Linked DNA regions of Homo sapiens: region 1 is linked to region 2. A link means that fine-mapping ties the variant in region 2 to the expression of a gene that starts in the linked region. Tissue or cell type: monocytes. Region 2 holds a variant in brackets; the other region holds the start of a gene. All regions are shown on one strand. Distances are between the middles of the regions. Region 1 holds the start of RABEP1 (rabaptin, RAB GTPase binding effector protein 1). Region 2 overlaps RABEP1 (rabaptin, RAB GTPase binding effector protein 1).

Region 1 (8,526 bases), 24 kb after region 2:
AAAGACACAAATTTAAAACAAATGACATCATCCAGAGCTTGTAGGATTACAGGGGAAATCCACCTGCCATATATCGTTGGCAAGTATGTAAATTGATGCCTTGGAGAGTAAGCTAGCAACAGGTATTAAAATTTAAACCACTCGGAACTCATGCCCTTTATTTAATTCACTAGTCTTACAGAAGTAAAAGAGTACCTTAAAAAATATGCACAAGGACATCCATTACAACACTGCTTATAAAATAATTAAAATTTGAAAACAATCTACTTGCCCCACAATAGGGAAATAGGCCATAAATCATGCCTGGTACATGCATATGATAAGATCGTCTTTAAGAAGAATGAAGAAGGCCTACAACACTGACCTGGAAGTAGTCCATGATCTAGTACATAAGCCAGATGGCATGGATTTGAATCCTGCTCCCCCACTTAATAGCTGTATAACACAGGCACGTTTCTTTAACTTCTGTGTGCTTCAGTTTCCTCATCAAGAAAATAGAAGCAGTAATATTCAATAGTACCATTGCTATGAAGATTTCCTAAGATAATGCCTATAGTGTTTGCAGAACATTACATGGCCATATAACCATGAGTATATAATATGATAGCTAACATTTATTAAGTGAGATAGGGAAGTTGCAGACTTATGTATGTAAAGCATGTCCTTCAGGGGTAAAAGGTAGCATGTCTGTGTAACTAACAGGAAACAATCAGGAATCCAGCCTGGCCAACATGGCAAGAATAAAAAATAATGAAGTAGGCTGGGTGCAGTTGCTCATGCCTGTAATCCCAACACTGAGAGGCCAAGATGGGAGAATCACTTGAGCCCAGGGGTTCAAGACCAGACTGGGCAACACAATGAGACCCTCTCTACAAAAGAAAAAAAAAAAAAAGAAAAAAAGTGAAGTAAAACCAGAGCAAATGCTTCAAAGATATAGTTGAACTTAGATTAAAAGAAATACTAAAATTAGAAAATTTTCATTTTTAAATTCTCAAGGGAAAACAGATCAACTGAAATTTCTTTAACTATTAAAATTACCTGTATTCCAAATAAGTAAACTAAGATGCAGTATCAAAAACCCAAAACTTTTTTTAACTTACAAAATAATTACAATGAATAAAATGATTACATTTCATCCCTTCGATTTACACACAAATCGATTTTCCTAATCTACCATATGGCCATGAAAAACAGACAATATTTTTTTTTTTTTAAAAAGTCATCAAAGACAATCGCTTCTGAAACAGGATAAAACAAGATAAAGTCAAAGACTAAGCAGTTAGTTATCTTTCACCACCAGTTTGACACAAAAGAATTCTGGCGATTTTTTTTTTTTTTAATCAGCAGGACTAGGAAATTCAAACGTGCCTAAAGCTAAAATGGTCTACATGAGTTCAGCTAAAGACACAAATTAAATCCCCAAAAGCCGGACTCACGGGCTCACACCTACAATCCTAGCACTTTGGGAAGTGTAGGCAGGTGGATCCCTTGAGTTCAGGAGTTTGGGACCAGCCTAGGCAACATGGCAAAACGCCGTATCTACAAAAATACAAAAATTAGCTGGGAATAGTGGCATGCACCTGTAGTCACAGCTACTTGGGAGGCTGAGGTAGCAGGATTGCTTTGACCCCAGGAGGTCGAGGCTGCAGTGAGCCAAGATCGCGCCACTGCTCTCCAGCCTGGGCAACAGAGTGAGATACTGTCTCAAAGAAAAAAAAAAAAATTAAAATCCCCAAGATGAACTTCTAAGGCACTGACACAAGGCACTCAAACGTACCAAATTATCTCTCTCCTACTGTAAAAAGTAGCCATGGCTACCTACATTAATTTAAAATAAAAATTGCAATCTATGCAAACTAAATCTCATCCTAGAGTCACAAGATTTGAGAAATAGGAAAGAAACCTGAACTAAAATACCAAGAATACAAGATTTCCTAAAGCTAGTTTTCCCTAGCCTCGTTCAAGTGCTTAGTCACTTCTGCCTATTTACAAGGAAGACCATTTCATATCTTCAAAGAGGCAGGGAATTTTGATTCCAGACGGTCATGTCACCTGAGCTGCCCTAGACGTTTCTTTCCATGCAACTCAAGAGAAGGCAGCAGCCAGCTATGCATACCTACCACTCCTGTTCAGAACCACAAGCTCTCTGTATCTTGCCTCTGTGTGCAGTAACAAAGTGGGATTGTGGAAGAACAAAGTTTTCTTGCCTGACACCAAATGCAAAAGGTGATCATTAAAATGCAGCCTGAAGACATCCCAGTTTCCTCTCTCTGACAGCCCACCAAAAATGCTTCCCTTCCCTTCTCCTGGAACAGAAACAGCAAAGCAGGTTCTTATAAAAGTCTAAATGCTTACTGGACATCTCCCCTTAGGCAAGCAACAACACCCAAAACTACAGGCTAACAGGCTCTGAAGCACATTTCCCAGAGAGCAGCCAGAACCTTAAAATCTGATAACATGGTTTCAAGTTCCCCAAAGGCAAAAATAAAAAGTAAGGGTTTCACGAAAGGTTATTTTGAGACAACCCCAAGGAAAGCCAAGTTTTAAAGTACCTACTCCGTACCAAGCCCCTTTTCCCAACATTCTACTCTACTCACACTTAAAGATGCTAAGCACACACGCTGATTATAGAAATACACCAGAAAGTACTTTCACAACTAGATACAGTGGGACCTTGGAAAAGCCCAAGCACACTATTTCCAAACATCTATTCTAGGTGGTAAAACCTGGAACCATGTAGTCAATCTGTGAAGCACAGCTTAGTCCAATTTCCCAGAAGGTCACGAAGGGCTCTGACAACCAACTTTGATTATTTAGGATGGGGCCCTTTTTTCCTTCCAAGAATATAAATGACACATTTCTTCGACTTCACTTTTTTTTTTTTAGTTCCACAAGCAAATATCTTCAAGTAGTGCAAGTAGGCCTCAGCATTCTCAAACACTATTCTCATTATTCCTAATACCTCCATAATACTATTATTGTATATACACATTCGTGTTGCTATTTTTATAGATAAAATATAAAGGCATGAATTAACCTCTTGGTTAATTCGTGGGTGAGAATACTGAGGCTCAACGAGGCTAAGAAATGAGCCCAGAGCTTGCTGGTTAAGAATACAGGTCCTCTAGACTCCCAGGCCCCAACACTTAACCATTAAGCCACACTGCCATTCAGGGAATGCTACTAAATCCAGTTACTGTACACAACTACTTTCAGGTCACATAACTGGGTGCAAAGAGTTCTATAGCAAGGATTGGGGCGGCAGGGAGGGTACACTACCTAAGCTAAGATTTTTTTTCTTTAACGAATATAGCACATGTTCCCGATTTCCATCCTCCCCCACGGGCAGAACCCACGTGCCGGTCCCCCGCTACCCAGAACCGCTCCCTCCCCACACTACCCCACGCTACCCAGCAGCCTCCCCACGCCCTTCCCTCTGCCCTCCCGCAAGCGCTGCACCCGCGCCTCCCGCCCCCTCCCCAGCGACGGCAGCCGGGGCGCCCGCGCCGCCCTCGCGCGCCGCAGCCCGCGCGCCCCCGCCTCCGCCCGGCGGGGTCACCCCCGGGGCCTGCGCGCGCCCTTGCCGCCGCCTGCCCGCCCCGAAATCCTCCCGCGACGCCGACGCCGGGCAGGCCGCGCCCGCCGCGCCTGCCATGGTGGGCGCCTCACCGTCAGGCTGGGAAGCCGGGCCCGGCTGCGCCATGACCAGGCGGCCGGCCTCGGGGAGCGGGGATGGGCGGGGAAGCGGCGTCCTGGGCTCCCGCGGGCTCAGCTGGCGGAGGAGGCGTCAACCGAGCCGCCGCCGCCGCCGCCCAGAGAGAAACCGCTAAGGCTGGATCCGCCGGCGCCGCCACAGCCGCGGGCAGAGACGGACCCGACCGCCGACCTCCGCCTCCTCATCCTGACAGCGGGAAATAAGCAGTGCGCAGGCGCAGGGGGATGGGGCGGCACGTGACGTTGGCCCGAGGGGAGGGGCGGGGCCTCGGGAGCGCGGAGGGAGCGCGGAGGGAGCGCGGAGGGAGCGCGGAGGGAGCGCGGAGGGAGCGCGGAGGGAGCGCGGAGGGAGCGCGGAGGGAGCGCGGAGGGAGCGCGGCGGGAGGGGAGGGTTTCGGCGGAGCTGGGCGCCTGACCCAGCGGCGCGGGGAGGCTGAGTGCCGAGCGGAGCTGGAGAAGAGGGGCTGCAGCAGAGGCCTGGCCTCTCGAAGGTGCCGGTCCCGGTTCTCCACCCCAGCACAGTGAGGGGAAAAAAAAAAATGAGTAAGAGAGGAGGACCGATGGCGGGGTGCAGTTCCAGCCTCTACCTCTTCTAGCTTTGCGACCTTGGGAGAGTCACTTCACCTCTTGGAATTTTTATCAATATAATGGCTAAGAAAAGTTTAAACGAGGTAATAAAGTATGAAGAACTGTTTCCGACAGTACTGGGCCTGGACCCCAGGTCTTCTGGTGCAGAGGCCAGTATACTATCCATTCAGCAAATACGTTTGGGTTTTCAGTCGTGATAGATGCTGGAGATACAGCCAGGTACAGACCCTGCACTCATGGCAGGAAAGGAGAAATCATATACACAAAGTGTGGCCCTTATACTTGGGCCCCTGGGCCCTATACTTTAGGAACTCCCCTCTAATCACCACTCCCCGTCTGATTTCGACACCTGGAGTGCCCCATGCCAAGGAGGTAGTTTAAAAAGCTTTTTTTTTTTTTTTGGAGATAGAGTCTCACTCTGACACCCAGGCTGGAGTGCCATGGTGCGATCTCGGCTCACTGCAACCTCTGCCTCCCGGGTTCAAGCAATTCTCCTGCCTCAGCCTCCCGACTAGCTGGGACAACAGGCGCACGCCACCACACCCGGCTAATTTTTGTATTTTTAGTAGAGACGGGGTTTCACTATGTTGGTCAGGCTGGTCTCAAACCCTTGACCTCGTGATCCGCCTGCCTCAGCCTCCCAAAGTGCTGGGATTACAGGCGTGAGCCACCGCGCCCGGCCTAAAAAGCTATTTTGAAATCAGAGAGGAGCATCAGGAATTATGTACATTTTAAGACCCAGCAATCCCACCCCAGGATGAGGGAGTCCACAGGGTTTGGCACTTCAGGACCAAGTTCTGAATACTTGTGGCCCCAGAATTCCCTTTCCAGATGGCTGAAGCTGTGGTCTCTTTCCCAGATCCATTCTCTCTATGGCAGAGTCTAGACATCCCTAAAAGAAGCTAAAGTGAAAGCATAAAGAATGAGTTCATGTCCTTTGCAGGGACATGCATGAAGCTGGAAACCATCATTCTCAGCAAACTAACACAGGAAAAGAAAACCAAACACCTCATGTTCTCACTCATAAGTGGGAATTGAATAATGAGAACACATGGACACAGGGAGGGGAACATCACACACCGGGGCCTGTGGGGGGTGGGGGGAAGGGGAGGGAGAGCATTAGGACAAATACCTAATGCATGCGGGGCTTAAAACCTAGATGACGGGTTGATAGATGCAGCAAACCACCATGGCACATGTATACCTATGTAACAAACCTGCACGTTTAGCACATGTATCCAAGAATTTAAAGTATAATAAAAAAATAATAATAGGCCGGGCACAGTGGCTCACGCCTGTAATCCCAGCACTTTGGGAGACTGAGGCAGGTGGATCACGAGGTCAGGAGTTCAAGATCAGCCTCTCCAAGATGGTGAAACCCCATCTCTACTAAAAATACAAAAAATTAGTCGGGTGTGGTGGCAGGCGCCTGTACTCCCAGCTACTCGGGAGGCTGAGGCAGAGAATTGCTTGAACCCAGAAGGCGGAGGTTGCAGTGAGCCAAGATCGCACCACTGCCAGCCTGGGCGACAGATCGAGACTCCATCTCAAATAATAATAATAATAATCAGAAAATCCACTAATTAGAATCAGTTTCTACTTTCTTTAAATCATTTGTTTTAAATAAGGTATACTTTTATTAAAATGATTATTTCTCACTGAAAAAAAGGGAGGCTAAAGGGCAGCTTTGTTTTATTTTAAGGGGGTGACACGACACTTGGGTGTTTGAGCTCCTATGTCCACAGATCCCTCATGGTGCAGGACAGAGGTGAGAAAAGAAGGCAAGTGAGCCAAGAGACAATAGTTGGGCCAGGGCCTGTGCTGCTTTCGCCACCTCATTCATGGGCATAACTCCCAGGAGCCCAGGAATTCTAAATTTAAACCTGGTCTTCCAGGTCTTAAACAGGTAGATTTGTCCAAGTAGAAGGATAGACTGTATTAAGGTTAGCGGTTAATTGGAGTAGTTTGTAATTTTATTTTATTTTATTATTTATTTAATTTTTGGAGACGGAGTCTCTCACTCTATTGCCCAGGCTGGAGGGCAGTGGCACCATCTCAGCTCACTGCAACCTCCACCTCCCGGATTCCAGTGATTCTCCTGCCTCAGCCTCCTGAGTAGCTAGGATTATAGGCGTGTGTCACCACGCCCAGTTAACTCTTGTAATTTTAGTAGAGACAGGGTTTCACCATGTTAGCCCGGCTGGTCTTGAACTCCTGACCTCAAGTGATCTACCCACCTCGGCCTCCCAAAGTGCTGGGATTACAGGTGTGAGCCACCACGTCCAAACTGGTTTGTAATTTTAAATAATTTAGGTATCTATTTGTACTTTTGCCCCAGGTCCTGCCATCGTTAGAGGAGAGCCAAAATACAGACTCGAGTTTTTTGAGCAGTTAATGTCTCCCAAATGGCTGGTGTGCATTTGAGAGAGCAAGCAGGGTCTCCCCAACACCCTGCCCAACCCCCCATAAATGATTTTCCTGGATGAGCAAATCCATGCTTACCAGGAAGACCTTTGGCCAGGATAGGGCAGCCCAGTGCATCCTCTGTATTGTTGTGATGACTAACACGAGGCATAAGCCATAAAGATAGCAGATGCGGCCAGGTGTGGTGGCTCACGCCTGTAATCCCAGCACTTTGGGAGGCCGAGGCGGGCAGATCATTTGAGGTCAGAAGTTCAAGACCAGCCTGACCAACATGGTGAAACCCTGTCTCTACTAAAATACAAAAATTAGCCAGGCGTGGTGTTGGGCACTTACAATCGGGAGGCTGAGGCAGAATTGCTTGAACCCAGGAGGTCCAGAGGTTGCAGTGAGCCAAAATTGCACCACTGCACTCCAGCCTGGGCGACAGAGCAAGACTCCCTCTCAAAAAAAAGAAATAAATAAAAATAAAATAGAAGGGGCTCCTTCCAGTGAGAGAGTGGCAAATTTGTTGCCATTGATAATGAGGCTTGAAGCCAGGCCCTCAAGTCAAGGTCCCTCAGAAATGGTCAGGCATATGATTTGGACACCTAGGGCTCTCCATGTGAGGGAAGTAGTTAAAAAGCCATTTTGAAATCAGATAGGAGCATCAAGAATATTGAACATTTTCGTATTTTTAGGTAAACCTTAAGACCCAGCAGTTCCACCCCTAGGAATATATTTTAGGAAAACAAATGTATGCTCAAAGTCTTTACTAAGTATAAAAGATGTGATTCTTATGTTCTGAAGGAAATTGGGAATAAGACATAAACACATGAAATAATTAGTTACCAATGACATTGCCCATGTGCCCCAGGAGACACACGAATATTCACAGTGGCATAGTTCATAATACGATAAATAAAGGACTCATATGTTCATCAACAGTGGACTAGATTTTTAAAAAGTTTTAACATACAGGGCATCATGGCGGGTGCCTGTAGTCCCAGCTACTGGAGAGGCTGAGGCAGGAGAATGGCGTGAACCCAGGAGGCGGAGCTTGCAGTAAGCCAAGATCACACCATTGCACTCCAGCCTGGGCGACAGAGCGAGACTCTGCCTCAAAAAAAAAAAAGTTTTAACATACAATGGAATATTCTACAGCAATGAAAATGAACAAACTGGCCAGGTGCGGTGGCTCACGCCTGTAATCCCAGCACTTTGGGAGACCGAGGCGGGCGGATCACGAGGTCAGGAGATGGAGACCATCCTGGCTAACACGGTGAAGCACCGTCTCTACTAAAAATACAGAAAATTAGCCAGGCGTGGTGGCGAGTGCCTGTAGTCGCACCTACTTGGGAGGCTGAGGCAGGAGAACGGCGTGAACCCAGGAGGTGGAGCTTGCAGTAAGCGGAGATCGCGCCACTGCACTCCAGCCCGGGCAACAGAGCGAGACTCCGTCTGAAAAAAAAAAAAAAAGAGCAAGTTCTGTGGAACTGATAGAAAGCATTCACTCTATGTTTCATTAATATAGTCACACAGTGTAGATTATAGGAACGGACGCATCTCCTGCACATTATCCTGATTGGGTCACATCAGCAATGTTGGTTCTGTGCACCATTTTTTGCAGGGACACTGACCAGCTGCAGTGGATGGAGACCCAAGGAATGAAGTATCTATCCAAAAGTTTCTGTGCAAAATACATGGAAATATCAAAGAAAGTTACACTAGGGGTAGGAGGGTAGATGACTTGGGCCATGAAGATTGTCCTCAAATCCCTGGAATACAGTGCATACAGATGGGCAGGGATTGCAGCAAGAGAGT
Region 2 (8,000 bases):
ATCACTTGAATATGGGAGGCGGAGGTTGTAGTGAGCTGAGATAGTGCCACTGAACTCCAGCCTGCGTGACAGGGGAAGATGTCGGGGGAGACTCCCATCTCAAAAAAAAAAAAAAAAAAGGACGAAGCTTTCATTTAAATTGTAAATATCAACAATATAAAATTTTATCCTTCACATCTTTTCAAGCAAAAAATTTTAAACATCAACTTTAACATGTATGAAGGTTGTATGTAAGTATATATTTTACAGAGTTCATAAGTTAAAAAAGGTGCATGATCACTAGTCCAGAACAGGATTTTTCAAACTGTAGTACTTGAACTAGCAGTAACTGGAATCATCTATGAGCTTATTAGAAATGCAAATTTCTGGGCTCCACCCAAACATACTGTGGTTTAACAAGCTCTCCAGGTGATTTTTATCCACATTTGAATTTGAGAGCCACTATTCTATTATAGACTAGAGCAGTTTTCAAAATTTAGTGTGCAGCTGGACCCAAATCCCACAGTTTCTAACTCAGTAAATCTGGGTGGGACCCAAACATTTGCATTTCTAACAACTTTCCCAGGTGATGATGACGATAATGATGCTGTTCCACAATCACACTTTGAGAATCACTGGTCTAGAGAGCTGTGGAAACTACATTCACATTATTCTAGGTCGATACTCAGAAGGTAAGCCCCTTCCCTGATCCTTCAAATCAGGTCCCCCAACATGTTCTCTCATGTATTTTCCTTATACAGTTTCTTTTTCTTTTTTTTTTTTTTTTGAGATGGGAGTTTCACTCTTGTCGCCCACGCTGGAGTGCAATGGCGCAATCTCAGCTCACCTCAACGTCTGCCTCCTGGGTTCAAGCAATTCTTCTGCCTCAGCCTCCCGAGCAGCTGGGATTACAGGCATGCGCCACCATGCCCAGCTAATTTTGTATTTTTAGTACAGACAGGGTTTCTCCATGTTGGCCAGGCTGGACTTGAACTCCCGACCTCAGGTGATCCGCCCCCGCCCGTTGGCCTCCCAAAGTGCTGGGATTACAGGTGTGAGCCACCGCGCCCAGCCTGCAATTTCCTGTTTTAACGACTCATCACACAATTACTTAACATCTGTTTTGCTCATTGAGTTCAACCAAGTTAAAGAACCACATGAATTTTCCTCTTTCTGTATACCCAACACAAGTATAATGTCTGCCTCATAGTAGATATTAAATAAATATTTATTGATAAATAACTGAATATTTGTTGGGTAAAACTGATGTTTCATGGAATTAAAGATAACATAGCTAAAGCTGTTATTAGAATGCCAACAATCCTAGTTTGCCCACAACTGTATCCCAAATGTTAAGAGCAATAACATTCTCTTATCTCAAGGCTATGCAACCTAAATATGAACAGTAAGATCAAAAAACAAGGCAAAATCTGAAGAAGGCATTTTTCAACTTGTTTTTCAATCCCATTCTTAACCTAGCCTTTAAACAGTATTCTTTTATTATGCAAGTACAAATAAAATCAAGGTTTATTCAATGATAAAATTAACACTACTACCAAGAAACTCAACACTTTAAGGCAGTTTTCGCATTGAAGTTGGTGCGAGACTTATGAACTTACCCTCTTTAGCCAAATATAACTCCTTAAATTTTGCTCTCTTTTGATTAAATTCTTGTTCAAGCTGCTGTTGTGCACGTAAAAATTCTGCATTAATTTTTTCCAATTCTGCTACCCGTTGCTGAAGAGAAACTGGGGGAAAAAAACACTAGTTAACAAGTAATAACTTTTATTCATAAATTTATAAAACAGTAAATTAGTATTCTAGCTGTACATTGCTATACGTGAAACAAGTAGTCAAGCTTCTTCCAAAAATCCACCATATGCTAGGATATTCTAATGTTTAAAAAAAGTAAGACAGACCAGGCATGGTGGCTCACGCCTGTAATCCCAGCACTTTGGGAGGCCGAGGCGGGCGGATCACCCGAGGTCAGGAGTTCGAGACCAGCCTGGCCGACATGGAGAAATCCCATCTCTATTAAAAATACAAAAATTAGCCAGGTGTAGTGGCAGGTGCCTGTAATCCCAGCTACTCAGGAGGCTGAGGCAGGAGAATCGCTTGAACCCGGGAGGCGGAGGTTGCAGTGGGCCGAGATCGCACCACTGCACTCTAGCCTGGGTGACAGAGTGAGACTCTGTCTCAAAAAAAAAAAAAAAGATCCTTGTATTAGACTTAATACACAACTGTAAATGAGTCATGTAAAGTGAAACCACAAATATACAGAGAATCACATAAGGCCAACTTCCCCACAAAAAAAAGAGCTTCTAAAGTGCCTTTGTGCAACTGAATAGCAATTTAATTTTAGAACTGTTAAATATTGGATTATTTGAACTACTTATCCCACAAATGAACCTACTGCCAATCTTGCTATTTCCCATTTCTCTCAAGTGTCACAAGCAAAATCTAATAGGTTCCCTAACTAGTGTAGCCATACCAGACTGAACTATTCTTCCAACTTCAAAATGATCCATTACCATTATACTGAGATCATAATCAAAAACCCATTCATAGAGAGGATACAGAACTGCACATTCTATATAAACTCTCAATTACTGGGAGATAATCTGGTTTTCTTCCATGTTTTCAACATTGATCATGGTGTGCGGAGATTAGCAGACTTTTTACTTTATGGACTCTATAATTTGGACACAGCTGGTTAAATGATTGCCTTCCCTGACCAAACCCAGGGGTTCCTTTGATTGAAGCATAAGATAGGAGGTCCAGCTGTGCAAACCCCTGATCTCCCCTTTTGCCCCAACAGCATCCCAGCCTTAAAGCTATGACCATAATCCCTTTAGGGGATATCGGTTAGTACTAATCAACCACTAACTACTTAGGCCAGCAGAGGGCCAAGTTTCCTACTGCAAGTCACTCCAGATAATGATGATTTGCCTAGAATTTTAATCAAGATCTGAGATTATCTTTGAAGGCTATCCCCTCTCCCAATCACTCAATTTAATTGAGAGCTGATTTTAAAATGTATAGAAAAAAAGACTGGAAAAAATGTACCAATGATTTATCTATGAGTAACAGAATTATGGCTCATTAATTTCTTCCATATGCTTTTGAGACGGAGTCTCCCTCTGTTGCCCAGGCTACAGTGCAGTGGGGCGATCTCGGCTCACCGCAAATTCTGCCTCCCAGGTTCAAGCAATTCTCCTGCCTCAGCCTCCCAGTTAGCTGGGACTACAGGCATGTGCCACCACGCCTGGCTAATTTTTGTATTTTTAGTAGAGACGGGGTTTCACATGTTGGTCAGGCTGGTCTCTAACTCTTGACCTCAAATGATCCACCCACCTCGGCCTCCCAAAGTGCTGGGATTACAGGCATAAGCCACCGCACCTGGCCTTCCATAAGCTTCTCAAAGTTCTCTTCTATGCAGATATGTATTCCTTTGACAATGAACTAAAACCAACACAGATGGTTCAAACTGATGGTTTCACTTACAATTTTTCCACTTTATTATGGTACTCATACAACCATTCTCTTTTTTACTTTCAACTTTCACTAGAGGATTCAATAAATTACATGAGATATACAACATTTTACTATAACTTGATAAATGTTAGCTGTTAGCTGTCATTATTAAATTGGTGGTATTTATTTAATGAGTAACAAAAAAAAGTAGCAATCAAATGACCTTGTATATAGCCAGAAAAGACCAGAAGTCACTTCCAACCTCATGATTCTGACTCAGTTCCATGCTTAGACTTCCAGCTTATACCCTCCTCTATTATCATGTATCTTTTTTTTTTTT[C/TC]AGACAGAGTCTCACTCTGTCACCCAGGCTGGAGTGCAGTGGTGCAATCTTGGCTCATTGCAACCTCCGCCTCCCGGACTCAAGCAATTCTTCTGCCTCAGCCTCCCGAGTAGCTGGGAGTACAGGCACATGCCACCACGCCCAGCTAATATTTGTATTTTTAGTAGAGACAGGGTTTCACCATGTTGCCCAGGCTGGTCTTGACCTCCTGACCTCAGGTGATCCACCCACCTCGGCCTCCCAAAGTGCTGCGATCACAGGCATGAGCCACCGTGCCCGGCCTACCATGTATCTTTATAGCATCGTGAACAAACTAATTACCATAATGCCAGCCTTCAACAATATTAAACCTTCTGAAATTTACAAGGCTGAGAATGTAAGTATGCCAGCCTTTGTCAACAATAGGCTTTCTGTTAGAAGATTTTGCCCAGCTGCAGGCTAATATAAGCATTCTGGGTACATTTAAGGTAGCTAGGCTAAGCTATGATGTTCCGTAACTTAGGTATATTAAATGCATTTTATGTTATTTCCAATTTATAATGGGATATAGCCCCATGGTAAGTCGAGAAGCATCGCTATGTGTTCATTCCCATGAGACCTTGAAACTAGCCTCACTATAGATTTAATAGTGTAAGTGCAATCATTGCCGAAAGAGGATGACTGCTGGTTTGAGTTCCATGTCACTAATGGTAATTTTTGAGGAACTAACATGTAGGGTCTCTAAGTCAAAGCACTGACTTCTGGTCAACTGAAGGTTTGATAACTTTGAGAAAAAGAGGGATGAGAAATCCACTGGAAGGAAAATGTGCAATTATCTCATATTACCCTTTGAAATCATGAAAGAAATCTGTTCTCTGTGCTAATTCTGCTGGTATTTTTATTGTTAAATCCACATTGTTTAATAAGTTAAACAACTTTTCCACTTAACACTTTAGTATTACTGGTAGCTACTGATTAGTACAGAGGTAACAAAGGGCTCTGGGGAATCAAGGAAAGAGAAAAACCAAAATCCCTCTGTTCTTATTTTTCTCTAATAAGATGTATCCCCTCCTATCCCTACCTTCTACCAAAATGCACACATAACCGAAACACCCATACCCCTCAACATTAATATATTTATAATTAGGAAATGAGGCAAATGAATCAACAAAACAAAAATGCAGCTGTTAAAGATGCAGCCAAGATTAAGTATGTTTCCATTACTCCCAACCCCTTCATGGCTCTGACCCACAGTTTAGACCCACTCTATACCCACAAAGCCTGGCTCTCTCCAGGCTTCAGGACAGTGTTCAGTTCTAGAAATCATGATCTTTTGAGAGTATATCGAGTAATTGTCTTATTTTATTTTTAAGAAGTGATCATCCACCTCAAGTACTTCTAACATACTGCAATTCTACAATATAGAAAGACAAAAAAAACTGCTTTTTACAAGAATGCCTTTACTACAACATCGAGACAAATCGATTCACTCTCAATATGAGAAAGTTTACAAATAAGCATATCCTAATGCATTAGCAACCAACCACAAATCAAGGAGAAAATAGCTCTCATCACACAAAATGCTGTATTATTTTTTATAACATGGTAACTAATAGGTCACTATCATTAGCTAATAGTTCATGTAAAAAGTACTTAGTGTGGCATATAGAACAAACTTGATAAGTGTTAGCTGTCATTATTAAATTGGTAGTATTTATTTAATGAATAAAGAAAAAAAGTAGTGATCAAATGACTTTGTATGTAGCCAGAAAAGACCAGAAGTCACTTCCAACCTCAAGATTCTGACTCAGTTCCATGCTGAGACTTCCAGCTCATATCCTTCCCTATTACCATGTATCTTTATAGCATCATGAACAAACTAATACTAATTACTGTAATGCCAGCCTTCAACAAAATTAAACCTTCTGAAATTTAGAAGGCTGAGAATATCAGTATGCCAGCCTTTGTCAACAGTTCCACACATCCCGTATTTGTTGCCTTCATTTGAGCAATAAGAAAAAGGGAGAAATTATCTAATCCATTGCCTACTTTTTTTTTTTTTCCTTGAGACAGAGTTGTTGCTTTGTTGCCCAGGCTGGAGTGCAGTGGCGCAATCTTGGCTCACTGCAACCTCCATCTCCTGGGTTCAAGCGATCCTCCTGCCTCAGCCTCCCAAGTAGCTGGGATTACAGGAGCCTACCACCATACCCGGCTAATTTTTTTGTATTTTTAGTAGAGACAGGGCTTTACCACATTAGCCAGGCTAGTCTCGAACTCCTGATCTCAGATGACTCACCCGCCTCAGCCGTCCAAAGTGCTAGGATTACCGGTGTGAGCCACCACATCCAGCCATGCAATGGCTACTTATAATGCTTGACATCCAAAGGGAAAAATGACTATGTCACTCAATTCAGAATGTCTCAAATAGCAACAGCAATACAAAACGAAAAAAGAATACAATAAATAAATGGAGTAAAGACCTAATAATAATTTTGATATAAACAAGAGAACACGCAATAACTTAAAATATTTCTAAGACTCAAGCTGTGTCCTACTACTACGTTCCTCTTACAAGTAAAACAATATAATAAATTTTTATTTATTTTTTTTTTTTGAGATGGAATTTCGCTCTTGTCGCCCAGGCTAGAGTGCAATGGTGCAATCTCGGCTCACAGCAACCTCTGCCTCCTGGGGTTCAAGTGATTCTCCTGCCTCAGCCTCCCAAGTCGCTGAGATTACAGGTGCCCACCACCACTCACAGCTAATTTTTGTACTTTTAGTAGAGATGGGGTTTCACCATGTTGGCCAGGCTGGTCTCAAACTCCTGACCTCAAGTGATCTGCCCGCCTTGGCCTCCCAAAGTGCTGGGATTATAGGTGTGAGCCACCACACCTGGCATCTTTACACTAAATTTGATAAAGACATAAGCAATGTGAAATTTACTACGACCAAAACCTTTTTGTTTAATGATGTTCAAAATCCAAGAAAACACCTATTTCAATCAATTTACAACAAAAAATAACTCCAGTGGGATCAAAGAATCTGAACAGTTCCTAAAACTCATATGTCTTATCTTGTTTCTCACTGGATTTTAAAATAAAACTATTGGACAGGCACAGTGGCTCATGCCTGTAATCCTAGCACTTTCAGTGGCCAAGGCAAGTGGATCTCTTCAGGACAGGAGTTCAAGACCAACCTGGTCAATGTGGCGAAACCCTGTCTCTACCAAAAATACAAAAATTAGACGGACGTGATAGTGCGTGCCTGTCATCTCAGCTACTTGGGGGACTGAGGCACAAGACTTGCTCGAACCTGGGAGGCAGAGGTTGCAGTGAGCCAAGATCGCACCACTGCATTCCAGCCTGGGTGACAGAATGAGATCCTATCTCAAAAAAAATAAAATAAAATAAAATAAAACTATTAAGTATGGTAGGTATATCCTACCCATCCTACATATTCATTCAGTGAAGTAATACCAAGCCAGAAAAAGTTATATTAAGTAAATACATTATACATAGCACAGTATGAGCTACACAAAAATTATATAGAAAAAAAGACTGTAATGAATATCCAAAATGGCATTCAGAGTAGTAAAAGAATTATGCTGATGAGATTTAAATCAAAAGGCAATGAGATGCTTTATCTTTCTTGTTTTAAGAATTATTTTATTGCTCTACCTCAATCTATTTGCTCATAAAAAAGTATTCATAATTTAATGGTCTTAAAATATTTCAACACAAAAAAAATCATTTTTTAAATTTTGCTCTTAAGAAACTCACAGTCTATAAAATCATTTTTTAAACTACACTTAAGATTTTCCTAGCCAGGCCCAGTGGCTCACATCTATAATCCCATTACTTTGGGAGGCCAAGGTGGGAGGACTGCTTGAGGCCAGGAGTTTGAGACCAGCCTGGGCAACAGAGTGAGATCCCATCTCTACTAAAAATACAAAAATTAGCCAGGTGTGGTTGTGTGTGCCTGTCGCTTGCGCCTGGGAGGTTGAGGCTGCAGTAAGCCAAGATGGCACCACTACACTCCAAAAAAAAAAAAAAAAAAAGTCTAAAAAATTAAAAAGCTTATAAGGTAACTTTATAGACTAAGGTAAGCTGGCCGGGTGTGGTGGCTCATGACTGTAATCCCAGCATCTTGGGAGGCCGAGGGGGATGGATCGCCTGAGGTCAGGAGTTCGAGACCAGCCTGGCTAATATGGCAAAACCCTATCTATACC

The links.
Region 1: RABEP1 starts here. The variant in region 2 is fine-mapped to the expression of RABEP1 in monocytes (Quach 2016, PIP 0.95).

The regions. Positions count from the first base shown.
Region 1 is chr17:5,277,664-5,286,189 of GRCh38, reverse strand. It overlaps RABEP1 (rabaptin, RAB GTPase binding effector protein 1), which reads right to left and starts at 3,906. Exons shown (of 18, transcript NM_004703.6): 1 at 3,670-3,906. The coding sequence starts at 3,703. RefSeq lists an enhancer at 1,101-1,619 and a silencer at 3,467-4,186.
Region 2 is chr17:5,302,421-5,310,420 of GRCh38, reverse strand. It overlaps RABEP1 (rabaptin, RAB GTPase binding effector protein 1), which reads right to left. Exons shown (of 18, transcript NM_004703.6): 2 at 1,599-1,727. Among named protein-coding and RNA genes, the nearest start is that of RABEP1, 24 kb to the right of the region's middle. The variant C/TC (reference allele first, on the strand shown) is at 3,794.